Regions from separate parts of the Homo sapiens genome. Here all the other regions are linked to region 1. The links come from fine-mapping of genetic effects on plasma protein levels. A gene starts in region 1. Each other region holds a variant in brackets. All regions are shown on one strand. Distances are from middle to middle.

Region 1 (10,679 bases):
CTGACAACAATAGTGTAGTTTCACACAGATAAGAAGGGAGGTACAGATATAGACAGAGAGAAAGCTAGAAAGAACCCTGTGGTGTTGGATTGGAACTGGCAGTATAAGTGTGAACTCATGGTTTTCAAAATGATAGGTATAGAAATAAATACAGCTGGTCGGACGTGGTGGCTCAAGCCTGTAATCCCAGCACTTTGGGAGGCCGAGGCAGGTGGATCACTTGAAGTCAGGAGTTCAAGACCAGCCTGACCAACATGGTGAAACCCCGTCTCTACAAAAAAAAAAAAAAAAAAAATTAGCCGGGCGTGGTGGTGCATGCCTGTAATCCCAGCTACTTGGGAGGCTGAGGCAGGAGAATGGCTTGAACCTGGGAGGCAGAAGTTGCAATGAGCCGAGATCGTGCCATTGAACTCCAGCCTGGGCAACAAGAGCAATACTCCGTCTCAAAAAAAGAAAAAAAATATAGCTGTAAGTACAATATACGCATTTGTTCATTCATTCTCTGGCTCTGTCCAGTGAGAGACCTGAGGACAGTGACACTTGGGCAGCAGGGAGCAAGATCACCTTGTGTGTGTATCTTGGCTCTAAATACCATTCTCTACTATGAGGAACCCAAGCCCCTTGGAGAAAATTCCCAAGTCCGAGCCCAGGGCAAGGTAAATAGGAGAGGAGATGAGCATTTCATGCTGCCTGAAAGTCAGGGAGGTCTTAAAGAACGATGGGGATCATTGAAAAGGACACAGGAGCCCATTTGAAGGAGCTGTCACTGGCCAAAGTTGGCATGATTTGAGCATTAAAATAAATCATGGTAGGTACTGACTGTAAGCCATTTAATAAAATAGAAATCCGTGAGTCCACACTGATTATATAAGTTAACAAAGAACACAAGAAGGAAAACAAACTCTTCCTTAGGTAGAATGCCAACTATTAAATACAAAAGGAATGGTGACATTTTATTTATTTATTTATTTAACAATAGCAACTTTTATTTTAGACTCAGGGGGTGTACGTGCCCCTTTGTTATCTCATAATACTTTAGCATTTTAGAATAGTTTTTTCTAATTCTGTGAAAAATGATAATTCATATCCCAAACCACATGGTAAGTGTAGTACCCGGGTAGTTAGTTCTTCAATCCTTGCCTCTCTGCCTCACCCCTCTAAGTAGTTCCCTGTGTCTATTGTTGCCATCTTTATGCCCATTAGCACCCAATGTTTAGCTCCCACTTATAAGTGAAAATATACAGTATTTGGTTTTCTGTTCCTGCATTAATTTGCTTAGGATAATGGCTTCCAGCTGCATCTATGCTGCTGCAAAGGACATATTTCATTCTTTTTATGGCTGTGTAGTATTCCGTGGGTGTATATATACCGCATTTCCTTTATCCAGTCCACTGTTAACGGGCAACCAGGTTGATTCCATGTCTTTGCTATTGTGAATAGTGCCGCAATGAACATACGAGCACAGGTGTCTTTTTGGATATATACTCAGTAATGGGATTGCTGGGTCAAATGGTTGTTCTGCTTTAAGTTTTTTAAGAAATCTCCAAACTGCTTTCCACAATGGCTGAACTAATTTACATTCCTATCAATAGCATATAAGCATTTGCTTTTCTCTGCTGCCTCACCAGCGTCTATTGTTTTATGACTTTTTAATAATAGTCATTCCAACTGATGTGAGATAGCATCTCATTGTGGTTTTGATTTGCATCTCTCTGATGATTAGTGATATTGAGCATTTTTCATATCTGTTGGCTGCTTGTATGTCTTCTTTGGAGAAGTGTCTGTTCATTTCTTTTGCCCACTTTTTATTGGGGTTATTTTATTTTATTTTATTTTTTGCTTGCTGAATTGCCTAAGTTCTGTACAGATTCTGAATATTAGACCCTTGCTGCATGCAGTGTGCGAATATTTTCTCCCATTCTGTAGGTTGTCTGTTTACTCTGTTGATAGTGTCCTTTGCTGTGCAGAAGCTTTTTAGTTTACTTAGGACCCACTTGTCAATTTTTGTTTATATTGCAATTGCTTTTAAGAACTTAGTCATAAATTTTTCCCCAAGAATGATGTCTAGAGTGGTGCTTCCTAGGTTTTCTTCTAGGATTCTTATAATTTGAGGTCCTACATTTAAACTTTTAATCCATCTTGAGTTAATTTTTGTATATGGTGAAAGGTAAGGGTCCAGTTTCATTCTTTTGTGTATGGCTGGCCAGCTATCGTATCACCATTTATTGAATAGGGAGTGCTTCCCCCATTGCTTATTTCTGTCAGCTTTGTTGAAGATCAGATGGCTGCGGGTATTCAGCTTTATTTCTGTGTTCCATTGGTCTATGTGTCTGTTTTTATACCAGTGCTATGCTGCTTCGATTATTGTAGCCTTAGTATAGTTTTAATTTGTGTAATGTGATGCCTCAGGCTTTGTTCTTTTGGCTCAGGATTGTTTTGGCTATTCGAGCTTTTTTTTGGTTCCATATGAATTTTAGAATAGTTTTTTCTAATTCTGTGAAAAATGACAGTGGTAGTTTGACAGGAATAGCATTGAGTTTGTGGAATGCTTTGGGTGTATGGCCATTGTAATGATACTGATTCTTCCAATCCATGAGCATGGAATGTTTTTCCAATTGTTTGTGTCATCTATGATGTCTTTTACCAGTGCTTTGTGGTTCTCCTTGTAGAGATCTTTTATGACCTTGCTTAGCTGCATTCCTAAGTATTTTATTTGTGTGTGTGTGTGTGTGACTATTGCAAATGGGATTGCATTCTTGATTTGGCTCTCAGCTTGAACTTTATTGGTGCACAGAAATACTACTGATTTGTGCACATTGATTTTGTTTCCAACTTTATAGAAGTTGTTCATCAGTTCCCGGGGACTTTTGGTGGAGTCTTTAGGGTTTTCTAGGTATAAAATCATATCATCAAGGAAGAGAGAAAGTTTGACTTCTTCTTTTCCTATTTGGATGTCTTTTATTTCTTTCTCTTGTTAGATTGCTCTGGCTAGGACTTCTGAATGACAGAATTTTTAAAAGTCACCATTTGGCAATGATCATCATGATAATGTTTAATTAAATTAAGGAACATCATTGCATACTGAAATTATACAAGTGTGGGAGTGGGATGAGAAAGCTTAAAAGTATCTCCCTACCAAATGCTTATAAATTACGATGTGGAAGGGGAAGTAACTTTACAATAGAGAAACTTGATTGGTGTCAAGTTAATCAAATGATCAGAGCGAACGACATTAGTGATGGGACAGATTGACAATGAAAGCTAATAGGACTCACCAAGAATAATCCAGCATCACTTCTGTGCTATTTTGGCCAAAAAAGCATAACCCAGTTCTAATCATCAGACAGAGCCAAATCGAGGGACATTATTCAAAACAACCAACCTGCAGTCTTCGAGATGTCGAGGAAAAAACAAGGCATCTGTTTCAAACTGGAGGCCCGAAAGACATGGCAACTAAGAGCCATGCATTTAGAGAGAATGCAAAGTCCCGGATGGATTTTCTTGTTACAAAACCATTATTGAGAAGCTTAGCGAAACTCAAAGGGGGTTTCCACATGAAGGGTATGTGAGAGTTCTTTGTATCATTCCTTTAACGCTCTGTATTTTGAAATAGTTTCAGAATAAAAATGGAAATGGAAAAAAATGCAATGTTAACATATACGAGTTACTACTTTCAACAAGTTATCTTCCTTTTCATGCCTCAATTTCTTCATCTGTAAGGTGAAGACAGTAACAGCTACATAAAGGTTATTGGGAAGAGATGGAGAAGCCCCCAGCCGAAGGTCTGCTCACAGCGTAAATGCTCAAGCCCTGGTCATTATGAGTACTACGTTCTTGCCAACATTTTCTTGGGTTTCTTAGTCTCTAAAAGATCGTCAATTGCAAGACACGGTATTTTACATACCACTGAAGGAAAAAACAAACAAACAAACGAAAACATTCAATGAATTCCTGACGGTGTGATTCTTCTCGCTTAGAACTTTTAATACTTATTGAGAGAACTCTGTTAGACTCATTCAAATGTAGATTTTTATCCCCTGCTGCTCTATGATGACTTTTAAAAGGAAAGGGTCAGTCAAGTGAATTGGCTGAGGTGTTCCTAAAGCTCCTTCACATTTTGGGTCTGGTGTCCGGAGTGATTTTGACTCAGAGTCTCGGGTTCTTCGTTTCTCCACCAGACAGCATCCTCTGTGCTCCTGAGGGCATCCAGGCCCGCAGCCTCCCAGTCCCACAGAGGACCTCAGCAAAGACAGGCAGAGTGGGGACACCTGGGAGAAAAGAGAGCCCGGGACGTCACTTTAATTCCATCCTCTCCAGCCCTGGAGAAGCCCCTGCAGGGTTTTTCCATGCCAGGCAGGGACCTCACACTGACCGGAGTGCCTGAGAGAACCACACATGCCTTCCTCTACCCTGGGCTTTCTCTGCTAGGGTGAGGCCCTGCCAGCTCTTCCTGGCCAACCCTGCCCTTCCTGGTAGGAGGAAAGCAAAGAACAACAATCAGGCCAGAATTCCAGTGGCTTCGAGGCAGGTTCCTGCCCCTCCATTTCCTCCATTCCCCTCATTCTTGCCCTCCATTCCCCTCATTCCTGCCTGCTGCCCTTTCTCCTGGGAGGCAGCCCCATGTAGGAGAAATATGACTGCGTTTTGTTGTGTCTTGGCACTGTGATTCATCTTGTCTTTATTCAAACTTTTCATATTTGGTTCACCGTGAATAGTTTCTGCATCAGTTGGGATTTTTTTAAACCATATTGCATTAAAATATTACTTACAACAATTACTGAATTTTTAAATGCCTGTTTAAATTTTGAGCACGAGAGACTGCCTCACTCACCTGACCTTAATTCTGCTGGCCCTGCTGTGCTCAGGGAGCCACTCATTCATTCATTCATTCATTCATTCATTCATTCATTCATCTATTCATTTGCACACAGTCAAAGGTGCAATTTCTCCTCTGTACCAGGCCATGTGCTAGGTATTTGGGAGGGAAGTGCAAGCCGGACACAAGCCAGCACTGAAGATAGTGTCAGAAGAAAGACAGCCATGAACACACATGACCATATGACACATGGTGGGGTGGGGCGGCAGGGCAAAGAGGACATCGGGGAAATCAACATGCCACCAGCTACCACTTGTAGGGGGTTCTCCTGTGGCCAGCTCTGAGCTAAGGTCTTCCTGCACAGAATCTCACTGGATTCCCTCAACAGTCCTTCCAGGTTTGTAGATGCTTCTGCAAAAGTAACAGACAGATGGATGTCCCGAGGCTTGGGGAAGTAACACGCAGATGATTTGCACAAGGACACGCTTTAAGAAGCAGTGGACTTGGAAGTCCAACACAGATCTGTCTGGCTCTGGGCTCAAACCAGCTATGGTTATTGCAGCCACTTCCACCTGCATCCCCATCAAGCAGTCAGGGAAGGCTGCATGGAGGAGGCCCTGCGTCAGCTGAGGCTTGAAGGAGGCCTAGGAGTTTATAGGAAGGTAAATTGGAGTAGGAGGCTTTCTGGAAGTAAGAAAAGTCACGTGCACTATTAGCAAAGTAGGCCTGGGCCGGCACTGCTTCCTCTTTCTGCTTCTCTGTTTCCTGATGACATCAACATAAATAGGAAACGTGGGAGGCTCACTCTGCCTAGAGGCTCCAGAAGAAGACTGGTCTCTCCCACCACACAGAGGTATGGCCCGGCGTCCAGGAGCAGGGCTGAGGGGTGGGGTCAGAGCAGGGGGGAATGTGGGGAGTCCAGGATGAAAAAGGACAGGGGGAGCCTGGGGGGCGTCCTGTGGGTAGCTGTGCCCTGGGGACTTGGAGGAGTTAGGGCTTGGCCTCTTAGGATGACCTGAGCCCAGACTCCTAGGGCGGCCAGTGGATGGGGAGGCAGCCAGGGGTGCCAAGCTGCTTGGGTGTTGTAGGAGAGCTCTGGGGAGGACTCAGCCTCGCTAGCGGGATCTGGTTGGTCCTGGTGGGAAGGACGCCTAGTGGGGTGAAGAGAGCTCAGGCCTGGGAGTCAGGCACCTATAGTCTGTCTTCGCTTTGTCACTAAGATGCTGGTGGTAGTGAGAGCACCCCCTGTCCACCCTGGGCTTCTGTCTCCTCATCTGTGGAATGGGGAGCATGGATAGTCCCTGACATCTTGGTTTAGAAAGAGAGAGAACGCATGCTCGTGTGTTTGCCCGTGTGTGCATTTGTGTGTGTGCCTGTGTGTGTATGTGCATGTGCGGATGTCTGGGGATGCAGGAGTGCAGAGAGACTAAGAGGCAGAGGGTGAAACCTGGAAGCTTGCTGCGCTGAGGCCCAGAGCTGGGTGCGGTGTGGCTTGAGAAGCTCACTTTGAACTTGAGAAAGAGCCCAGCACTTTGCCCAGAGACATACCAGGCACTATCCAGCAATCTCTCTCTCTCTCTCTCTCTCTCTCAGTCTCTCTCTCTGTCTGTCTGTCTTTTTAGTTATGACACTCTGCCCTGCTGATTTGGGTTGCTGATTTGGGTTGGGGCCCAGGTGTGTGTGTTCTGTACCCAAGTATGCTGGCTGGGTGGGTGGGTATCTGGGGTGCCTGCTTCAGGGTGTGTGCAGGTGTGTGTACTGGCCCTGAGAATGAAAGGGCAGGTGTTTCACTGGGACCTTGTCAGACAGGTGCTAGCGACAAGCTGCATATGTGCAATTTTTAGTCTTCAAAAACCCTGCTGTTATATTTTTGTACAGCCCAATTCTAATTTTTTTCTATCATCTTTCCTGCTTTGTAATCATTTTATAATGAGTAAACATTTCCTATTAGCTTTTGGTCACTCTTTTTTTCATCCAGCAGTTTTATTTATATTGTTCCAGTATACAGATATACCAACACCACAGGATAATTCATGAGTTGTATAAGGAATGTATTTAATGCTAAACAAGCAACTACACAGAAACCTACCTTCATGAAAATTAGAATAATCTAGAATTATGTAGCACAAGAGACAAAGTCCCCAGCAATTTCTTTTCCCTAGTTCCATAGCTTATTCTTTTCACCACATGTATTCTTCCAGAACATTTTCTAAGCATGATACAAGCATATAGTTTTTCTTTTCCTGTTTGTTTTTTGTTTTGTTTTGTTTTGTTTTTGTGACAGAGTTTTACTCTTGTCGCCCAGGCTGGAATGCAGTGGTGCAATCTTGGCTCACTGCAACCTCTGCCTCCCGGGTTCAGGTGATTCTCCTGCCTCAGCCTCCTGAGTAGCCGGGATTACAGGCATGAGCCACCACACGTGGCTAATTTTTGTATTTTTAGTAGAGACAGGGTTTCACCATATTGGCCAGGCTGGTCTCGAACTCCTGACCTCAGATGATCCGCCTGTCTCAGCCTCCCAAAATGCTGGGATTACAGGCTTGAGCCACTGTGCCAGGATGGTAGTTTTTCTTTTTACAGAAATGGGATTATTTTATTTATATATATATATATATATTCCTAATTTTTTCACTTAATATTGTATTTTGGAATATTTCCAAATTTCTACAATAATACATACAGATTTAACTCGTTAAGTAACCCTAAGAAATATGTGGCATTTATTAGGATGGGTACACCACAATTCATCTAATCTCACGTTGATCGACACCTAGATTGTTTCTAATTTTTCCACATCTGTGAAAGTGTTTCTGTAGCCTAAATTACTAAATGCAGAATTGCTGTGCAGAGGTTGTGCGTTAGAAATTATAATAGGTATTGTCAAATCAGCCTCAAAGTAGCTGAGCTAAGCTGACGTCCCCAAGGTAGTGCATAAAGGGTCCAATTTACCTTTAGAGAAATTATCAATCTTCTAATTTTGTCCAATATTATGTATGGAAATTCTCAATGTCGCGTGATTTTTTTCTTTCCCTGATTATGGGTGAAGTTGTACATTTTCTATATGTGGATTGGCCTTTTGGATTTCATTTATGATGAATGTGGAGAAATTTTTGTTCATCTCCTGTTGAATTCTCTTTTACATCTTAACTTTTGGAGTGACTCATTTATTACGTGTATTAATAATCCATTTATATATGTTGAAAATATATTCTCCCAGGTTATGACTTATCTTTTTCTTTACCATGTTTAAGATGTCTTATGTCATATAAAAATGTTTTCATTGTTAAGTCAAACCTGTCATTACTTTTTACTTTATGGTTTCTGATTTTGGTGTCTTGTAAACCTCTAAGATCACAGGTGTCTTGTAAACCTCTTTTTACTTTATGGTTTCTGGTTTGGTGTCTTGAAACCTCTAAGATTACAGAAAGAGTTTTAATAATTTTACTATTTTGGTTTTGACTTTGAGATTTTTAGCCCACCTAGAATTTAGAGAAGTGAGTAATGTGTAAAGTAACTTTTAAAAATAATTACCATCTAATTGTCTTAACATTGCTAATTATGAGTGTGTGATTTCTCCTCTCTTCAATGATTTGAAGTGCCCCTATTACATCCTAGGCTTCTATACATACTTCGTTATTTTCTTTATTGTTTTCTCTTCCATTTGGCTGTCACTACATTCCTTATTATTTTTCTAACGAATGGAGCAAGTCTCTCATCTCTGGTTTGTTATAATTTAGAATCAGTTTGCCAAGGCCAGGCACAGTGGCTCATGCCTATAATCCCAGCACTTTGGGAGGCTGAGGCAGGCAGATCCCTTGAAGTTGGACGTTCAAGACCAGCCTGGCCAACACGGTGAAACCCCATGTCTACTAAAAATACGAAAAATTAGCCGGGTTTGGTGGTGTGCACCTGTAATCCCAGCTACTTGGGATGCTGAAGTGGGAGAACTGCTTGAACCCAGGAGGCAAAGTTTGCAGTGAGCCGAGATCACGCCACTGCACTCCAGCCTGGGCAACAGAGTGAGACTCCAACTCAAAAATAAAAATAAAAATCAGTTTGCCAAGCCCATTAAATTCCTTTTTGGAATTTTCATGTTGATTGCATTGAATTTAGAGATGATCTGAGGGACATTGACCACTGGAAGTAAAGACAATAGTGAGAGCCTCCTGTGTGAGGCTTTGACAGGAGGACACTAACGTGCCCCCTTGACTCTGTCATCGCCTTTGGTTTCTGGCAGACTTTCAGTGATGCCAACGTTTCCGCCACTGCTTCATTTGCCAGGGTTTGTTTGTTCATTTAACCAGAAATGTCTTGTTTATTATTAAATATTTAGGAGTGTCTGTCAAGATCAGCTTATCCTTTTTTCCCTTTTAATCCGTTCATCTGTTTGTTTGAATCATAAATAGGTTTCTTAAGGGTTCTCCTTCCATGTATGGAGTACCCTCTACTTGGCCATGATGTCTTCTTCTTTTAAAAGTCTTTGTCAGGTTGACCTATGAAATTGTTTTTGTCTGGAGTGAATTTGTATTTTGCTTTTCCCCCCTAGTTTTTATCCCTGCCATTCAATTTCTTCATAAGCTTGGGAATGTTTATCCCTGCCATTCAATTTCTTCATGAGCTTGGGAATGTAATATGTGCATGTTTATTTTGAGTAAGAAGGTGTTTGGTTTTTCTCTTCTCTTTTCTCTCTCTTCCTTTCTCTGTCCCTCCCATCCCTTCTCTGTCATCCTCCTGTCCCCATGCTTACTCTTCATTCTTAGTGATTTTTAATCTTTATGTTTTTAGGGATTTAAAATGTATTGAACTTATATTTTCTGGGTCGGGCACAGTGGCTCACGCCTGTAATCCCAGCACTTTGGGAGGCCAAGGTGGGCAGATCACTTGAGGCCAGGAGTTGAGACCAACCTGGCCAACATGGTGAAACCCAGCCTCTACTAAAGATACAAAAACTAGCCAGGCGTGGTGGTGCATGCCTGTAGTCCCAGCTACTTGGGAGGCTAAGTCACAAGAGTCGCTTGAACCCCGGAGGCAGAGATTGCAGTGAGCCGAGATCATGCCATTGCACTCCAGCCTGGGTGATGGGGTGAGATTCTGTCTCAAAAAAAAAAAATAGTATTTTTTTTAAAGAAACCATATTTGCTACCAGCATTTGGGTTTATTTAGCACATATATGATCTTCCAAAACAAGAGGAGATCTTTAGCAAGTTTTCAGTTCTCTTCCATTCTCCACCCCAGCCTCACAGCAAACTCCCACATTAAAATCATCTGAGTTTTAGTTCAATATTCTTCTTTAACTTATCTGTAAGTGTTACAGGTTTATTTACCTCAGTATTTCAGCTTTCTTGGATTTTTTTTTCCTGAAATATAACCTAGAGTAATTTCTTTCAGAAAAGATCTGAAAAACTTTCTTTGTCCTTACATACTCAAAATTTTTTGTGTCCTTTAAATGTCAAAGAAAACTTGGCATTTTGTGATTCTAGGTTTAAGCATAATTTTCCCTTGGTATTTTCAAGACATCTATTTAAAGTTCAGAGTCTCTTATGTGAAATCTTTAGCCAATCTGACCCTTGTTGCATTCAAAGTATCCTATTTGTTTTCTTCTGGAAGCATTTCTGGGATCATCCTCATATTCTTGCAAGACGAAAAGTTTACCAGTGAGAACTAGGCATGGCTTTATTAAAAGGAATCTTGGGAGTTAACCCTGATCTCTGTCCCCTACTACAAAACCTCATCGTAGTAGCCTCCCCCCTTGAATACAGATTCCTTACTGTCTTTGAAAAATATTTTAAAAAGGAGTCTTGTTCTTTATTGAGTGGCCTCTTGTCTCCTTGAAAGCCCTGTGAAGCTTTCCCCATTTGCTGTT
Region 2 (8,000 bases), 15 kb after region 1:
CAGCAAATGTCCCAGGGAGCAGGATCTCATGGTTGGGCCTCCGCCTTCTTCCTACTTGACCAGGGGCAGCCCCTGACAAGGAGGACCACCGCGGCCTCCCTGCAGTTTCTCTTGCACCTGACTCTGCCCACAGCTCACCCAGTGCCCCCGGGGCCCTGCCCATCCTCCTCTTTCTCCTTGTCTGCTGCCTCCTGATGGCAAGACACCCAGGCCCAGTCCATGGACCTCCTCTCTGCTGTATCCACTCTGCAGAGACCCCCTCAGGCCCCTGGGGCATCTCCCAAAGGTGACCTCAAGCCCACAATTCCCCTAAGCTCCAGCCCTCCAGGCGTACTGGCCTCTCCACCTGTCACTTAGACAACAGGTGTCTCCGACTCCAAACGTCCTCAACCAAAGTCCCGCTCTCACCCGAGCTGCGCTGCTGCCTCTGTCTTCCCCATCTCCCTTTCTAAATGGGAGCTCCTAGTGGCTCAAACTAAACAACAGGGAGGATTTTGTTTTGTTTTTAAGTCTCTTTTGTCACCATTCCTTCCTGACTGCTACATCCCTCCACCAGCAAATGCTGCCAACCTTATCTCAAGCAGAACATGAATCTCACCCACGCCAGCCTGACCACCCTGTTGCACGCCACTTCCTGTCACCTGAATATTCCAGAAGCCTCGTAACTGGGCTCCCTGCTTCCAACATTGCCACATTCCCACCTCAGTCTATTCGCAACCGAGGACCCTCAGGAATCCTTTCAAAGCATTTATCAAAATCTACAACACCTCTGCTCATGACTGTTTCCCACTCACTCGCAGTGAGATCCAATCCCATCATGTAGATGGATGGGTCTCCTAGACCTCCCTATCACACGCTCTACTCCCTGCGCACTGGTTTTAGGCCAAGCCACGCAGCACACCAAACTCTGCCTGTCCCAGGGCCTTTGCACGTGCTGTTCCCATTTCCTGAAATCCTCACAATTTGCACAGTCCCTCCCTCAATGCCTTTAACATTCTGCCCCCAGGTCACCTCCTTAGAGAAGCCTGCTTGTCCCATATTTCAAATTGCCTCCCTGGCCCAGCCCTTCCTCCCTCCTCACCTGCTTCTTGCTTTATTTTTCCACATGAAGTTCTCTCCACTGCACACGCTACACACTTTGTTCCATGCGGGTCCCCTTCTCCCAGGATGGCAGCTCCGTGGGCAGGATTTTTGTGTGTTTTATCACTGCTGGCCCCTGATTCTGAACAGAGCCAGGCATGTGGTGAGCACTCGAGGAACCTTTCGTGAGTCAGTGATACCCATACACCCTGGGCTAAGCCGTGTCCTCTCCCAACAGGGACCTCCTGGAGCCAGTGTCCTGTGACCTCAGTGATGACATGCCCTGGTCAGCCTGCCCCCATCCCCGCTGCGTGCCCAGGAGATGTGTCATTCCCTGCCAGAGTTTTGTCGTCACTGACGTTGACTACTTCTCATTCCAACCAGACAGGCCTCTGGGCACCCGGCTCACCGTCACTCTGACCCAGCATGGTGAGGGGCTGGGGGCCCTGCCCGGGGCTTGGTTTCCTGTGTGGACAGCGGGGGCACCAGGGGTGGTCCAGGGAGTCTTCAAGGCAGAAGGCTGTGGCTTGGGGTTGGGTGAGGGTTTCTTGAGGGATGAGGGTATGGTCTGGTTACATGGAGACTTCAGAGCAGAGGGGCCCCTGACAAAGGCTTCTCCTGTGCCCCTGGCTGCTACCACCTCCCACTAAGCCATGGGCTTCCAGCACTGCAGGCTTGTCTTGAAGAAAACCGTTCTCACCACTCACTTAGAAACCTACCAAGTTAGAAAACTCTGTCCGCTTAGTTGTTTCATCTCATCTCTGAAGCAACCCATTTCCTGGATGTGGCCCTTGAGGCCCAGGAGGTCAGATGCCTCCTCTGAAGTCCCACAGCTGAGCAGTAATGACAGAGATGGGGTCAGCCTTCCCGGGGGCTTCCTGCATGGTAGACAGGGAGCTTGTCTCCTCGCTGCCCTGGAGGAGGGGCCCCGGTGTGGGCCGAAATCCCACAGTGGTCCATGAAGCCATCTGTGGTCTAGGGTGGGGTAGATGATTATTTTATGTAGTTAGGTTTTATTTGCCTCTATATTAGAAAGAAATATAACCTGCACTTCGAAGTCCTGGATTCAAGGAAATGGTTGCTTAGAATGAAGCTAAACCTGAAAAGGGACACGTTTTATGAAAGTTTTCGTTGACGTGGCAAAAACCCATGCTGGTGGCAGGCTGGTAGGAGGTACTGCAGGCTGTCATTGGGAGTCTCAGAACCACGGCAGGCTTGGTGCTGTTATTGGTGCCTTTGGCTGCTGCTGAAACGGAGACAGAGGGAGGTGACTAGTCCAAGGCCTCTCTACTGCTGCTGGCAGAGCTGAGATCCAGTGCAGGATGGTCTGAGTCCCCGGTCCTAACCACCGAACCACCTGGTGCTCTTTGCAAGGGTCACACGGAAGGGGCTCTGACCATGGCTTCCTGCCCTTTTTTGCCACAACATCATAAAGCCACTGCCAGAGGAGGGGATCAGTTAGGCCACCAGGAGTCCATCAGAAGCAACATTTCCACACATGGGTTTGATGGACACGAGAGTCCCTTCCTTCCCGAATGGAGCTCAGGGGGCCCAGGCTGGAGGGAGGGGAAACACTGTATGCCGTCCACCGTGAGAACTTACTGACAGTGGCGGGTGGGTGCCTCATGCAGGGGGTAAAGGGCAGGGCCCCTGGGAGATCAGAACAGGCTTCCCAGAGGGAAGAGCTTTGCAACTCAGATCTGAAGGGTAGACAGGAGGGGAGGGCAGTAAGAGCCTCTCTGGCAGGGTAACAGCTGTGCAGAGGCTGGGGGATCAGAAGGGCATGGGCAGCTGGGGAACCTGCTCACCATTGTGTCCAGGGAGCATCAGCTTCAAGGGCTGGACAGCGGTGGGAAGAAGCAGGAGACACAGGTAAGGACCTGTCCCTGGAGAGGCTTCTGTCTCCTGCAGTCTCAGGTAGAGGGGACCCTCTAGGCATGGAGAGCACTGAGGGGAAATGACATGATCAGATGTGGATGTGAGAATGCTGGGGACAGGGGACTTACAGGGTAGATTGGAGGAGCATTAGTTGGGAAAGAAGTTGAAATTCAGGCTGTGGCCTAAAGCACTCATTCCTAGAAATGATGAGGACACAACTGGCTAGGAGATGGGGACATGAGGGCATGCAAATCATAGTTCAGATATACACACAATTCATTCATTCAACCTTCTTTCCTTGAGCGCCTACATAAGCCAACGAAGCAGTCAACAAACCAGCCAGCAACCCTGCCCTTGGAGCTTACAGCCTGGAAACAAGGAAGGTTTCTAAGGCGATGGAGACAACTTAGATATAGGGAGAGAAGTGTGGCCCTTGGCCTCCTGGAGCCTGTGTTGAGTAGCGAGGTAGGGTCCAGCCTAATGCAGATTAGCAATGAATCAAGGATGCTGGGAGGTACTGGGCAGGCGACAGGCATGCATCTGATCTGCTCTGAGTCTCCATGTTTGGAGACCTTGGACATTTTACTTCCTCTATGAGTTTCTCCGTCTGTGAAATGAGCTGGTGGACTCAAGAGGTTTCTCTTGAGTTGGCTGAGCAGGTTTCTGATGGGGCTCCCAGTCTGCGCAGTTTGTGGCAGCTTCCGAGAGGGCTCTGCCGGGAAGAGCTCCCCCTCCATGACAGCCTCGGGGGCTGGGAGTGCAGTGACCCATGAGGGACGCCTGTCCTGGCTGTGGGTGAGGAGGGGCGGTTCCCCTGCTGTGTGTCTGCCGTTCTGGGTTGATGGTTCCTGACATGCTCTAGCATGCCATAACCCATGTCCAGCAGAGAGCACTTACATCCTATGTGTGAGGATGTTTTCGTTTGAAAGCCATCCCTCAGCAAGCAGACACCAGAAACCAGAAATCAGGTGCCGTGTCTTCATTCTGCATTTTCTTGAACAACCCAGAGTTCCCAGGAGATAGATGCTTGCCTTGTGGCTGCAAGGATTTCATGAGAAGCCCCAAAGTTGCTTACGCGTATTTGTTCATTCATTCACTCATTCACCTTGCCCCATAATTCACTGAGAAGCCGCATCTCAGCCTGGAGGTAGGGAAGGGGGTCAGGACCAATCCCACCCACCCCCATCTCCTCACACCTTAGGGGAGGCAGACACAGAAGCATAGGAATCCCTCAGCTGTGGTAAGGCCCTGGTGGAGGGAATTCCACTGAGCTATGGTGAAATGAGAGAAGGAATGAGGGATTCCGCCTGGAGATGCAGATCCGAGGATGTTCCTAGAGCCGGAGGCATTTGCCCGGGGCACTGACAACAGGAAGGACCCTGGGCAGGAGGAAGGGAGCTTGGACAGCAGGAGGGGGGAGGCCGCTGAACCGCAGGCCCCTCTGCTAGCAGGAGCCACCCAGGCCGCAGCGTGGGCAGTGGGGAGCCTCAGGACAGAGGAGGCTCCAATGAGTTTCCTCGCCAGCGCTTTTTATGGAGTTCGGGTCACGTGCGCATTGCAATCTGCACGGCTTTCCATTGCTTTCATGTTGAAACCCTACAGTTTTGCAGATGAAGGGCTGAGGCTCACAGAGGAGACGGGTCTTGCTCAAGGTCCCTCAGCTGCTGGGGGCAGGGGTGGCCTGGAACCCCCTGTGTCCACACAAAAGGCCATGCAGGCCCTGACTGCCCCCCAGCGGTCCAGCCCTTAGGTGCCCTTCACTTCCTCCCCTCCAGTCCAGCCTCCTGAGCCCAGGGACCTGCAGATCAGCACCGACCAGGACCACTTCCTGCTGACCTGGAGTGTGGCCCTTGGGAGTCCCCAGAGCCACTGGTTGTCCCCAGGGGATCTGGAGTTTGAGGTGGTCTACAAGCGGCTTCAGGACTCTTGGGAGGTAGGAACCACGGCCAGCTCTGCCCCAGCCCGAAGGGATGGGCAGCACCCCTCCTCCAGCACCCACTGTCTCCTGACAGGACGCAGCCATCCTCCTCTCCAACACCTCCCAGGCCACCCTGGGGCCAGAGCACCTCATGCCCAGCAGCACCTACGTGGCCCGAGTACGGACCCGCCTGGCCCCAGGTTCTCGGCTCTCAGGACGTCCCAGCAAGTGGAGCCCAGAGGTTTGCTGGGACTCCCAGCCAGGTAATGTTGCCAGAGCCCAGGAAATGCCCCGTGGTGGGAGGGCAGGCTCATCAGGAGCTCCTGGCACAGCAGGGTTCCTGGGCTCCACCTGGGGGCTTCCCAGATCTCCTGCTGCCATCTTTCCAGTAGCGTCCCTGGGCCGTCCCACCTCTACTGTGACCACTGACCAGTAGGACTCTGCATCTGTTCACTTTGGGTTTCCAGTTTTCTGCACGTTCTCTGCCAATGGCAATTACAATAATAACAACAACAGTGCTATTAGCAGCTGTGTGTTAATGGAGGCTACAGGATGCTCAGGGCTTACCCACATTTTTCAGTTCAATCCCCAAACACTGAAACTTAGATACTATTTCCATTCTCCCGGGAGGGCGTGCAGGTGCACAGAACTCTCTCTCTCTCTCTCGGAGCTGTTGGACACACAGCTGGCAGGTTCAGGCTGAAGTTTCAGCCCTGGTCTTTTGGCCCCAGAGCTCATGACCTCTGTGTGATGAATCACACGGTGGGCACCCACTGAGAGCTATGGGAGGGATGAATGACGGAGTACATGAGGACCTGTCTCCAACCCAGGGGATGAGGCCCAGCCCCAGAACCTG[G/C]AGTGCTTCTTTGACGGGGCCGCCGTGCTCAGCTGCTCCTGGGAGGTGAGGAAGGAGGTGGCCAGCTCGGTCTCCTTTGGCCTATTCTACAAGCCCAGCCCAGATGCAGGGTGAGCATCTTTTTTCTCCATCCCCTCCCCTCCTCTTGGCCTTGCTCTCTCCAAGCTTCCTCCTGTCCCTGGGGCCCCAGCAGAAGCCACAGCCCACCCTAAGCTCTCCTCCCTCCCGTGTGCCCTCCCTCTCCCTGCCCTCAGCTCTGCTGTGCTCCTCAGGGAGGAAGAGTGCTCCCCAGTGCTGAGGGAGGGGCTCGGCAGCCTCCACACCAGGCACCACTGCCAGATTCCCGTGCCCGACCCCGCGACCCACGGCCAATACATCGTCTCTGTTCAGCCAAGGAGGGCAGAGAAACACATAAAGAGCTCAGTGAACAGTGAGTTTGCTCCTAGCCCGCTGTGGGGATGGTCTGGGACCAGCACACCCTCATTGTGTAACCCGAATCAGTTCAGGGTTCCTCCTGGCCCCGTCTTCATGTTTGTCACTTTCAAAGAGATGCAGTCCAGTGACCAAAAGTGAACAGAGAAGCAATGAAACCACGACGGCAGTGGCCAAAAACAGGAGCAGATCTTTAAAACCTCTGATCTCTTGTCCTTTTCTTCTGCTTCCCTCTCCCATCCTGCAGCTCTCTAAATCTCCACTGCTAGCCACACCCTCCTGGTCCTGTCACCAAAACCTTCCCTTTCATTCCTCATTGGATTTTCCTCTTTCTGATATCCGAAATTCCCCACCGACTGATATTCTATCTTTAATGTAATTGATCTATGATGTACTTTTCAACTGGAGCCTGTGGTGTGTACAAATAGTGTTGATCCTTGGAGGTTAACATCCCTCGTTTCTGTGATGTAACAAGGACCCCAGTGCAATGGAACCTCTCACGTTGTTTCATGATGACCAAGTTCTTCCATCCAGTCTTTAGCATATGTGAAGGGCAGAGGCCAATTTGTCTTAATTACCTGGGTTTGAATTTACCATTAACTCTCTTGGGATCCTCACTGGAAAAAGGAATTCTGATTGTTCAAAAGCACAGGATATATTAAGGGCCTCATATAATGCCTGGCACATAAGAGACCTCAGCAAATTACGGGCATTCATATTATGTTTATACAGTGAAGGCATCAAGGTTATAAGCATTCTCTTTTTTCTTTTGGGTAGACTGAAGCTCAGAGAGGTTGAGTGGCTTACTTAAAGCTGCACAGCTATTAGTAGGCAGATCAAGATTAGAGTTCAGAACTTCTCACTCCCTGCCCAGTTTCTGCTTTCTTTACCCTTTGCCTCTTTCAAGTTGTGGGTCTGCCGGCCAGGTGGGAGGTGCTGTCTGCAAAGGGCTTCCCTTTCTCTTTGGCCACTATCTGGCTGGGGAGAGGCCTCACCTAGATGTTGTTGAAGGCCTGTTACAGCCGCTTTATTGGGGATTTTCTGGCGATGAGAACGTGTGAATGTCCTGGCCTTTAGTCAACTCCCTACACCTCTGAGAGTGTCAGACAAGAGAGCCCATCACACTGGTGGGATTGCAATCTTTGCCTCTACCACTGCTTAGCTGCCTTTCCTTAGGGCAAGTTACTTAATGGTTCTGTGACTCAGTTTCCCTGTTTGTGAAAAGTGAAGGTTAATAGTACCCACCATATAGGGCTGTTAGAATGGAGTGGAATAATTCATGTAGAATAAGTATGTATAACAGTGGCTAAAACATAGTCAGGCTGGGCGCGGTGGCTCACGCCTGTAATCCCAGCACTTTGGGAGGCCAAGGCATGTGGATCACGTGAGGTCAGGAGCTCAAGACCAGCCTGGCCAACATGGTGAAACCCCGTCTCCACTGAAAATACAAAAATTAGCTGGGCTTGGTGGCGGGTGCCTGTAATCCCAGCTACTCGGGAGGCTGAGGCAGGAGAATCACTTGAACCCAGGAGGCAGAGGTTGCAGTTAGCCAAGATCACACCACTGCACTCCAGCCTGGGCAACAGAGTGAGACTCCGTCTCAAAAAAAAAAAAAAAAAAAATAGCCAGTTGCCTAGAATAGAACCAACTAACAGTGGTTTTATTTTTACTGCAAAAAATAAAAATAAAAATAGGAGTAGTGCAAGCACTGGGCCACATCACTACAAAACAAGTGTATCTCAGCATCTCCCACGAGAATACCACTCAGGTCAAAACATGATATAGTGAAGTGGGGATGAAAAGGATCCAACCATGGGCAGAACCTGGGGTCTGGTG
Region 3 (10,679 bases), 28 kb after region 1:
GAGCCCAGTGGAGAGAACTGAGTGTGGGGATGCCTGGGACAGGGTGGGCTCACAGAGGGGGTTCCTGCTACCAGGATGGATGGGGTGTCAGGAGGCAGAAGGGCTCCCCAAGGACAAGATACCTGGGCTGAGCTTTGAGGGTCCCAGTGGTGCCAGGTGGCAAAAGTTGCTCTGGCTCAGGGCATCTTGAGGGTGGAGACAGAAACCCTTCAGGAAGGGAGCTGAAGGGGTGGGACAGGAGGCTGGGGGCCATGTTGGGAGGCTGAGATGACCATGGGGAAGACACCAGCGTGTGGGTGATGGGAGCCCTATAGTCAGGCAGGCAGGGCCAGCTTTGCCTGTGGAGGGGTCTCTTGGCTGGTGTGGAGGAGAAATGGGGGTGAGCATGGAGACAGGCACTCCAGGTTAGAAAAATCACAGGAAAAGGGCCCTGTCCTCAGGTAGCAGGGACATGGGGGAAGTCCCCGCCCCTCTCTGGGCCTCACTTTGCTGGTGTCAAAAGGCCGTGGCCAGTCCTGAAGAAGTGGAGATTCTTCTCTTGTCTGGGGGCTCCTTGAATCCTCCTGCACCCCCGTCACCCTCTGCCTTGCCCCCACCTCGGACCTCCTGATGCTCACCGGCCCAAATGTCTCTGCTCTTGCAGAACGGGAGCGCAGAGCTTTGGCCCCCAGGCAGCATGTCGGCCTTCACTAGCGGGAGTCCCCCACACCAGGGGCCGTGGGGCAGCCGCTTCCCTGAGCTGGAGGGGTGAGTGGGCTCGTGGATCACTCCTGACCTTTGGGGTTCATACGGGGGGCTGACTCCATTGTGGAAATCAGGGACTCAAGTGAGGCTGCCTGTGGCTCACTGTGAAGGGATCCAAGGGAGCTGGTTTGCACTAAAGCAGGAGGCACCTGGGGGGGATGTGAGGAAGAACTTCCTCTTTCCAGGTAAGGAAGTGCCAGACAAGGGGAGTGACCGGAAGTGAAAGAGGGAAACAGTTGGCCTTCCCCTCCCTGGCTGCCTCAGAGGCGTCACACTGCAGAGGCCTCATGGGGTAGCTGGGGCTGCAGACTCCCGGGAACTCGGCGCCTGAGCCGGCAGCTGACCACCAACTCGGCAGGGAGAAGGGGGTGGCATGGTTGATAGAATGATGGAAGGGTTGCCCAGTGCACAGGCTGGGCATGAGCCTGGTGCTGAAGGAGGATGGACTTTAAGGTCAAAAGGGAGAGGGTACCAGCCTTGCAGAGGAAGACCTTGAGCTCAGCATGGAGGATGGAGCTCCTGAGCCACGGAAAGACTGAATCCATGTCCCATGTCCTTCTCTGGGGCCCCTGCTCCCTCAACCCTGTCCCGTTCAGGTTCTCTCTGTGAGATCTGGGGGACATCAGGGCTTCCAGAGAACCATCTCCACCCCACCAAGACCCTTGTGCCTGACCCGGATCATCTGCCCAGGGTGGTCCCAACTCTTCTGCCCATTTTCTTCCCACAGGGTGTTCCCTGTAGGATTCGGGGACAGCGAGGTGTCACCTCTCACCATAGAGGACCCCAAGCATGTCTGTGATCCACCATCTGGGCCTGACACGACTCCAGCTGCCTCAGATCTACCCACAGAGCAGCCCCCCAGCCCCCAGCCAGGCCCGCCTGCCGCCTCCCACACACCTGAGAAACAGGCTTCCAGCTTTGACTTCAATGGGCCCTACCTGGGGCCGCCCCACAGCCGCTCCCTACCTGACATCCTGGGCCAGCCGGAGCCCCCACAGGAGGGTGGGAGCCAGAAGTCCCCACCTCCAGGGTCCCTGGAGTACCTGTGTCTGCCTGCTGGGGGGCAGGTGCAACTGGTCCCTCTGGCCCAGGCGATGGGACC[A/G]GGACAGGCCGTGGAAGTGGAGAGAAGGCCGAGCCAGGGGGCTGCAGGGAGTCCCTCCCTGGAGTCCGGGGGAGGCCCTGCCCCTCCTGCTCTTGGGCCAAGGGTGGGAGGACAGGACCAAAAGGACAGCCCTGTGGCTATACCCATGAGCTCTGGGGACACTGAGGACCCTGGAGTGGCCTCTGGTTATGTCTCCTCTGCAGACCTGGTATTCACCCCAAACTCAGGGGCCTCGTCTGTCTCCCTAGTTCCCTCTCTGGGCCTCCCCTCAGACCAGACCCCCAGCTTATGTCCTGGGCTGGCCAGTGGACCCCCTGGAGCCCCAGGCCCTGTGAAGTCAGGGTTTGAGGGCTATGTGGAGCTCCCTCCAATTGAGGGCCGGTCCCCCAGGTCACCAAGGAACAATCCTGTCCCCCCTGAGGCCAAAAGCCCTGTCCTGAACCCAGGGGAACGCCCGGCAGATGTGTCCCCAACATCCCCACAGCCCGAGGGCCTCCTTGTCCTGCAGCAAGTGGGCGACTATTGCTTCCTCCCCGGCCTGGGGCCCGGCCCTCTCTCGCTCCGGAGTAAACCTTCTTCCCCGGGACCCGGTCCTGAGATCAAGAACCTAGACCAGGCTTTTCAAGTCAAGAAGCCCCCAGGCCAGGCTGTGCCCCAGGTGCCCGTCATTCAGCTCTTCAAAGCCCTGAAGCAGCAGGACTACCTGTCTCTGCCCCCTTGGGAGGTCAACAAGCCTGGGGAGGTGTGTTGAGACCCCCAGGCCTAGACAGGCAAGGGGATGGAGAGGGCTTGCCTTCCCTCCCGCCTGACCTTCCTCAGTCATTTCTGCAAAGCCAAGGGGCAGCCTCCTGTCAAGGTAGCTAGAGGCCTGGGAAAGGAGATAGCCTTGCTCCGGCCCCCTTGACCTTCAGCAAATCACTTCTCTCCCTGCGCTCACACAGACACACACACACACACGTACATGCACACATTTTTCCTGTCAGGTTAACTTATTTGTAGGTTCTGCATTATTAGAACTTTCTAGATATACTCATTCCATCTCCCCCTCATTTTTTTAATCAGGTTTCCTTGCTTTTGCCATTTTTCTTCCTTCTTTTTTCACTGATTTATTATGAGAGTGGGGCTGAGGTCTGAGCTGAGCCTTATCAGACTGAGATGCGGCTGGTTGTGTTGAGGACTTGTGTGGGCTGCCTGTCCCCGGCAGTCGCTGATGCACATGACATGATTCTCATCTGGGTGCAGAGGTGGGAGGCACCAGGTGGGCACCCGTGGGGGTTAGGGCTTGGAAGAGTGGCACAGGACTGGGCACGCTCAGTGAGGCTCAGGGAATTCAGACTAGCCTCGATTGTCACTCCGAGAAATGGGCATGGTATTGGGGGTCGGGGGGGCGGTGCAAGGGACGCACATGAGAGACTGTTTGGGAGCTTCTGGGGAGCCCTGCTAGTTGTCTCAGTGATGTCTGTGGGACCTCCAGTCCCTTGAGACCCCACGTCATGTAGAGAAGTTAACGGCCCAAGTGGTGGGCAGGCTGGCGGGACCTGGGGAACATCAGGAGAGGAGTCCAGAGCCCACGTCTACTGCGGAAAAGTCAGGGGAAACTGCCAAACAAAGGAAAATGCCCCAAAGGCATATATGCTTTAGGGCCTTTGGTCCAAATGGCCCGGGTGGCCACTCTTCCAGATAGACCAGGCAACTCTCCCTCCCACCGGCCACAGATGAGGGGCTGCTGATCTATGCCTGGGCCTGCACCAGGGATTATGGTTCTTTTAAATCTTTGCCTTTCAGATACAGGAAAAATAATGGCATTAAATTGCTTTAATTTGCATTATTTTAGTTATCCAGTTTGCACATATTTTTATAGGTATCTTAGGCATCGATTGGTATTTTTTAACTGGGCCAAGCCCATTAAGGTCTTTCTTCTGTTGGGTGCTATCATTTTCTGATTAAGTCTTTTTGACTATTGACATACAGTCTTTCACAGATGGTGGAGTGTTTTTCCCCCAAATCTGTTGTTTGTCTTATAATGTTGTATATGAGGTTTTATGGTGTATGAATATGAATGCTTCTGTAATGTCAAACAGATCCCTAGTAAACTCCTTCTTCACTTTTACTGTCAGATTTACAAAGGTCCTCCCATTGCAAAGCAGTGTTTGTCCTAATTTATATATTGTTTTTCTAGTTCATTTTGTGTTTCCAACTTTTCATGTAAAATTTTAATTATTTTTGAATGTGTGGATGTGAGACTGAGGTGCCTTTTGGTACTGAAATTCTTTTTCCATGTACCTGAAGTGTTACTTTTGTGATATAGGAAATCCTTGTATATATACTTTATTGGTCCCTAGGCTTCCTATTTTGTTACCTTGCTTTCTCTATGGCATCCACCATTTTGATTGTTCTACTTTTATGATATGTTTTCATAAGTGGTTAAGCAAGTATTCTCGTTACTTTTGCTCTTAAATCCCTATTCATTACAGCAATGTTGGTGGTCAAAGAAAATGATAAACAACTTGAATGTTCAATGGTCCTGAAATACATAACAACATTTTAGTACATTGTAAAGTAGAATCCTCTGTTCATAATGAACAAGATGAACCAATGTGGATTAGAAAGAAGTCCGAGATATTAATTCCAAAATATCCAGACATTGTTAAAGGGAAAAAATTGCAATAAAATATTTGTAACATAAAACAAAGTGAAACCCTGAATTTGTGTGTGCATGTTGGTGTAGTTGGAGGAAGGGGTTGCTCTTTGAAACCTCAATTGCTATTGTAAGTGATACAGCTCCAGTGACTGGAGGAACACCAGGGTCCTTAGTCTTGCGCCGATTTAAATAAAACGACACGGAAACACATGGAGTGGTTTTAAGGAGTGGAGAGTTTAATAGGCAAGAAAGAAGGAAGAAGCTCCCCTGTACAGAGACAGAGGGAGGGGGGATCCAAAGCTGAGAGAGGAAACCCTGAGTGCCACAGAAATAAGCCAGTTATATGAGGAGGCTAGAGAAGGCAGTATCTGATTTGCATAGGGCTCAGGGGATTGGTTTGACCAGGCATGTCATTCATGTAACCCCTGAAAAACCTGGCCCTTTCACCCTAGCATTTTAATATGCAAATGCAGGGCGCCATGATGTTCTACACAGGTGGGACTATGTGGGGGTGGCCATATTGCCAGGCAAACATGGGGACAAGGAAAAGATGGCGGGAATCCCCATGTTTGGGTGGACCCAGTTTCTAACGGTCTGCATTTGCATATCAAAGGTTGCCAGCCTGATTCTAAGAGCCGGGGCTTTCCTGCTAGACAAGAAACGTTTTTTGGAGCTGCTTTTAAAACAGAAACGAAAACTTCCCAAGGACCACTTTTCCTCTTTATCTGCCTCAAATAATTTTTTAATAATTCCTATAACACAAGGAAATGAATTCTGCCAAACAGAAGGGCCTTTGGTCTTTGGGGCACTACAGTGGGTACATGATGGCGTGTGGAACACCACGCAATGGAGGGAGACGCAGGGCACTCCTGGGAAAATCCAGGAGGGATGAGGGAAGAGGAAAGACAGTGAGGGAAAGGAGGATAAAGAACACACTTTTAAAAAATCGTTCATTATTATCTGAAATTCCAACACAACTGAACGTCCTGTATTTTTCCCTAGTCATGAGAGTGAAAAACTAAATAGAGACTGAGTTCCCCATACAAATAACTGAGAGTGATCGAGAGCTTATTCCTGGCAGGCCCCATTCGAGTGACCTCTAAGATCAATTCATTTAGATACTATGGAAGTGGAAGATACTATCTTTATCATTTTTGTCATTGAGGAAACTAAGGCACAGAGATGTCATACAACTTGCCCCAGGTCTGCCAGCAGGTAAGGGGCAGAGCCAAGATTTGAACTGTAGCCCTGTGTCTCAGAGCCTGCCCTCAAAAGGTAAGTCTCTCACCTAAAGATCCATACGGAGATGTAAGATGATCCATGTTGGTTGGCAAGACAGAAAAATCCATAAACCAAATAAATTGATTTGGTGGCAGGGGGAGATTGAATCAGAGGTGACCCTGAAAAGTGTCTGTTTATCTGGGAGCTGAACACTGAAGGTGCAATTCTCACCCATTGGAGTCCAGAGAGACCTTCCCTGGAGGACTGCAGCTCCCTCATCTGTCTTCCCCTGAGAACCCAGCCCAGAGCCATGCATGTAGTAGGTGATCATTGAGGTGAGCAAGGCCTGCAGGAGGCTGTCCCTAAGATGGAGGAGAACAAAAAACTTATTAGGGGGATGAAAGGGAGGGCAGGAAGCAGAAGTGGGCTAGGGAAGCCATTGGCCATCCAGAGTTGACATTTGTCCCCCCATGGGGAACTTGGGGGATGAATTGCCTGTTGGAAGAGCCCATGTTGGGTGGAAATGGCCAGTCCCGGAGCCCTTCATGGTGGGGAACCCTGAGAACACACTACATAAGGAAGGAGCAGGGCTGGAGACCATCAGCAGCTTGGGCCTCACAAGCATTTCACGTGTTTAATTGATCACACAGAACCCTTGCACCAAGACAATCGTTTGCTCCTAGAGGGAGCCTTTCCTTCGTTTGGAAACAATCCTTTCCCAACCCCAACAAGGCAACCTGCATCCGGTGGTGCTCAATCAATAGAAGCTGGGCAGCCCGGGTGCAGGGTCAGTGTGCCCAAAGCATTGAAATGCGGTGATTTGGGCCATGGGTCATGCTGGGTGTCCTGAGCAGGGGTAACTTCATCTACCCAGTGACGCAGGTAGCAACTCTCTGGGTCTGGTGGCACAGGAGGTAAAGGAATTTACCAAGCCAGTTGTAGGTAAAGAAAGGCAGATTTATTAGAGAAGGTATGAAAATACGTTGCAAGGTCGCAATTACAATGAGCAGAGAAGGGGCTGTCTGCAAAGAGGCAGTGGCTGAAGGGAAGTTTCATAGAGTCACGTTGAAGAGGGCTACATGCAGAACAAGCAGAACGAGGTTGTTGTGCCTGGTTGTTTGTGATTAGCTGTCTCTGAGAATAATTGATGACTTTTCTCCCCACTTGGGGCCCTCCCCAACCTGGGGCCTCTTCCTCATTGTTGCTTATTTATCAGGACTCCACCAGGGACAGAGTCACCCTACAAGTCCTAACTCAAGTGTGGGTTCTTCTTAGAACACAGCCCCTCCAGCTCCCTTGGAAATCCCCAAGTCTTCCCAAACGATGTAGGACTTTTCTTCTTGGTCACTTTGCAAGCCGGGGCCCCCAGTCAGTGATGCCTTGCCCAGGTCTCACTCGGCCACGCTATCGCGTATAACTTGTATAACTTGTACCCATGTTCAGTGGTTCCTGAGCCCTTGTACCTCGCCCAAGAAGAATGAAGATATACTGGACATTGGAGGGTGAGGAGGGCTGAGAATAATTTTATTGAGTGATGAAAATGGCTTTCCGTGGAAAGGGGATTCAGGGGTGGGAGGTGGGGTGTAGGGGGAGGTTTTGCCACGTGGCTCGGTCTGGGGCCCTTTATGGATTCAAAATGAGGAGTGTATGCTGATTGGTTTGTGAGTATGCAAAAAAGGTTAAAGTGACAACACCACTCAAAGCTGTGCACAATGGTGTAAGAAAACCAATTAGGAAAGGGTAGGGAGGTATATGTAAAATAGGTGAAGGGTGAGGACTAATCAGAGGTAAGCATGCCAAACAGAAAGACAAGTTCTCAATCCAGTCCAGTCGGATGATTTAACTTGTAGCTTGGCTTTCAGGCTTTAAACTGTCTTTGGCTTGGAGGTGGGGTTTCACGGAGGACCTGCCCCATCTGCATAGGCATTTGTCCACCTCCTGCTTCTATCACAGAGCATGTCTCAGCCTCTCTGTCCTGCCACTCAACTTTGTCCCCCTGCCTTTATTACCCATCTTGTAATTCCTGGCTCACAGCTTTGTGTTCCAACTAGACTGAGAGCTCCCTGAGCCCAGCTACTGCCAGGCTCACTTCAGGCTTCAATGCCCAGCTCAGACGCAGTGCATCTGCTAGTGTGTGTGTGTGTGTGTGTGTGTGTGTGTGTGTGTGTGTTAAAAGTGTTTCTTGCTGGCTGGTTCTGGAAATTTGTCATTCTCTGTCCTCTATCTTCCTGTTAAAAACTTCAGCTGAATTAAATTTAAAGGAGTTTAATTGAGCAATAAACAATTCGTGAATTGGGCAGCCCCCAGAATCACAGCAGATTCAGAAAGACTCCAGGGGTGCCTCATGGGCAGAACAAATTTATAGACAAAAAAAAAAGTGACATACAGAAATCAGAACTGAGGTACAGAAACAGCTGGATTGGTTACAGATTGGCGATTGCCTTATTTGAACACAGTTTGAACGCTCAGCAGCGTATGAGTTGTTGAAGTTTATCTGCTGGGATTGGCCAAAACTCAGTGATTGTTACAGACGCATACTCCTAAGTTAGGTTTTCAATCCTGTCTACCTATTAAGTTAGGTTGTAGTTCATCCACAAGGACTCAAATATGGAAGTACAGAGTCCTTCTCAGGCCATATTTAGTTTGCTTTGACATCCCCATTGAGATGACTCAACTATTCGGCTAAGGGCTGTAGACAGTGAAGAAATGTGACTAATTGCTGGATACTGTAGTATATTGAGTGTGCAAGAGCATTATATCTAAAAAACAATGTACATACTGCAATTTAAAATGCTTTGCTGCTTAAAAAAAATAATGCTAACAGTCATGTGAGCCTTCAAGTTGTCATCTTTTTGCTGCTGGGGGTTCTTGCCATGATGTTGATAGCTGCTGACTGAGCGGAGTGGTGGTTGTTGAAGGCTGGGGTTGTGTTGAAGGCTGTGGCAATTTTGTGATTGGCCACCAATGGAGTTTGCTGCATCAATGGACTCATCCTTTCATGAAATTTTTATTGGTAGCATGCAATGTTATTTGATAGCATTTCTTTCCAAATTGAAGTTAATCTTCTTAAACCCTGCTGCTGCTTTGTCAACTAAGTTGATTTAATATTCTTCATCCTTTGTTGTTATTTCAACATGTTCACAGCATCTTTACCAGGAGTAGATTCTATCTCAAGAAACCACTTTCTTTGCTCCTCTGTAAGAAGCAGCTCCTCACCTGTTCAAGTTTTATCATGAGATTGCAGCAATTCAGTCACATCTTCAGGCCGTACTTCTAATTCTAGTTTTCTTTCTATTTCCACTACATCTGCAGTTCCTTCCTCCCCTGAAGTCTTGAATCCCTCAAAGTCATCCATAAGAGTTGTAATTGACATCTTCCAAACCCTGTTAGTGTTGATGTTTTGACCTCCTTCCATGAATCGCAAATGTTCTGAATGATATCTAGAGTAGTGAACCCTTTCTAGAAGGTTTTCAATTTACTTGGCTCAGATCCATCAGAAGAATCACTGTCTATGACAGCTATAGCCTTAGGAAATGTGTTTCTTAAATAACAAGTCTTGAAAGCAGGAATTTCTCCTTGATCCAAGGGCTGCATAATAACTGTTATGTTCACAGACATGAAAACGACATTAATCTTGTGTATCTTCATCAGAGCTCTTGGGTGACCAGGTACATTGGCAATAAGCAGTAATATATTGAAAGAAATATATTTTCTGAGCATTATATCTCAACAGTGAACTTAAAATATTCCTAAACCATGCTGTAAACAGATGTGCTGTCAGCCTTTACTGATCCATTTCCAAAACACAGGCAGAGTAGATTTAGCATAATTTTTGTATTAGTCTGTTTTCATGCTGCTGATAAAGACATACCCAAGTCTGGGCAATTTACAAAAGAAAGAGGTTTAATTGGACTTGCAGTTCCACGTGGCTGGGGAAGCCTCACAATCATGGTGGAGGGCAAGGAGGAGCAAGTCCCATCTTACATGGTTGGCAGCAGGCAAAGAGAGAATGAGGAAGGCGCAAAAGCAGAAACCCCTGATAAAACCATCAGATCTTGTGAGACTTATTCACTACCAAGAGAATAGTATGGAGGAAACTGTCCCCATGATTCGATTATCTCCCACTAGGTCCCTCCCACAACACATGGGAATTATGGGAGTATAATTCAAGATGAGATTTGGGTCGGGACACAGAGCCAAACTGTATCTTTTTTTTTTTTTTTTTTTGAGATGGAGTCTCACTCTGTCACCCAGTGCCACGATCTCGGCTCACTGCAAGCTCCACCTCCTGGGTTCACCCCATTCTCCTGCCTCAGCCTCCCGAGTAGCTGGGACTACAGGTGCCCACCACCACGCCCAGCTAATGTTTTGTATTTTTAATAGAGACGGGGTTTCACCGTGTTAGCCAGGATGGTCTCGATCTCCTGAACTCGTGATCCACCTGCCTCGGCCTCCCAAAGTGCTGGGATGACAGGCGTGAGCCAACGCACCTGGCCAACTGTATCAATACTTAAGGGGCTTAGGGTTCTTTGGAATTGTAAATGAGCATTGGTTTCAATTTAAAGTTACCAGTGGCATTAGCCCCTAACGAGAGATTCTGCCTGTGCTTTGAAGCATTGCAGCTTCAAATAAAAGGCATCTTCTTCCGATAAAAAGGCTATTTTGTCTACATTGAGTATCTGTGTTTAGTGCAGCCACCTTCACTAATCATCCTAGCTGGATATTCTGGATAACTTTGTGTAGCTTCTCCATCAGCACTTGCTGCTTCACTTTGTTCTTTTATGTTACAGAGATGGTTTCTTTCCTTAAACCTCACGAACTAATCTCTGCTAGCTTCCAACTTTTCTTTTGCAGCTTCCTCACCTCTCTCAGCCTTCAGGGAATTGAGGAGCATTAAGGCCTTGCTCTGGATGAAGCTTTGGCTTAAGGGAATGTTGTGGCTGGCTTGGTCTTCTATCCAAACCACTAAAA

Which allele goes with the higher level. Alleles are on the strand shown, and positions count from the first base shown. The strength of an association depends on the size of the effect and on how common the allele is.
For the plasma level of the protein whose gene starts at base 5,620 in region 1, allele C in region 2 goes with a higher level than allele G (weak association).
For the plasma level of the protein whose gene starts at base 5,620 in region 1, allele A in region 3 goes with a higher level than allele G (weak association).

The links. PIP is the posterior inclusion probability: the model's chance that the variant is causal. Protein levels are from antibody-based Olink assays in UK Biobank. Linkage for the fine-mapping came from a reference panel and not from the study's own genotypes, which makes the PIPs less certain.
Region 2: its variant is fine-mapped to the plasma level of the CSF2RB protein (UK Biobank, PIP above 0.99). The variant lies in the coding sequence of CSF2RB. If it changes the protein, the assay may bind it differently, which can mimic a change of level.
Region 3: its variant is fine-mapped to the plasma level of the CSF2RB protein (UK Biobank, PIP above 0.99). The variant lies in the coding sequence of CSF2RB. If it changes the protein, the assay may bind it differently, which can mimic a change of level.

The regions. Positions count from the first base shown.
Region 1 is chr22:36,908,009-36,918,687 of GRCh38, forward strand. CSF2RB (colony stimulating factor 2 receptor subunit beta) reads left to right here and starts at 5,620. Exons shown (of 14, transcript NM_000395.3): 1 at 5,620-5,669. LOC105373023 (a long non-coding RNA gene) reads right to left here. Exons shown (of 2, transcript XR_938230.2): 2 at 10,464-10,679. RefSeq lists an enhancer at 3,453-4,154.
Region 2 is chr22:36,924,669-36,932,668 of GRCh38, forward strand. CSF2RB (colony stimulating factor 2 receptor subunit beta) reads left to right here. Exons shown (of 14, transcript NM_000395.3): 4 at 1,319-1,509; 5 at 4,734-4,891; 6 at 4,971-5,139; 7 at 5,707-5,842; 8 at 6,005-6,162. It overlaps LOC105373023 (a long non-coding RNA gene), which reads right to left and starts at 1,275. Exons shown (of 2, transcript XR_938230.2): 1 at 1,082-1,275. RefSeq lists an enhancer at 836-2,035. The variant G/C (reference allele first, on the strand shown) is at 5,733.
Region 3 is chr22:36,935,906-36,946,584 of GRCh38, forward strand. It overlaps CSF2RB (colony stimulating factor 2 receptor subunit beta), which reads left to right. Exons shown (of 14, transcript NM_000395.3): 13 at 644-747; 14 at 1,472-4,534. The coding sequence ends at 2,597. Among named protein-coding and RNA genes, the nearest start is that of LL22NC01-81G9.3, 24 kb to the right of the region's middle. The variant A/G (reference allele first, on the strand shown) is at 1,847.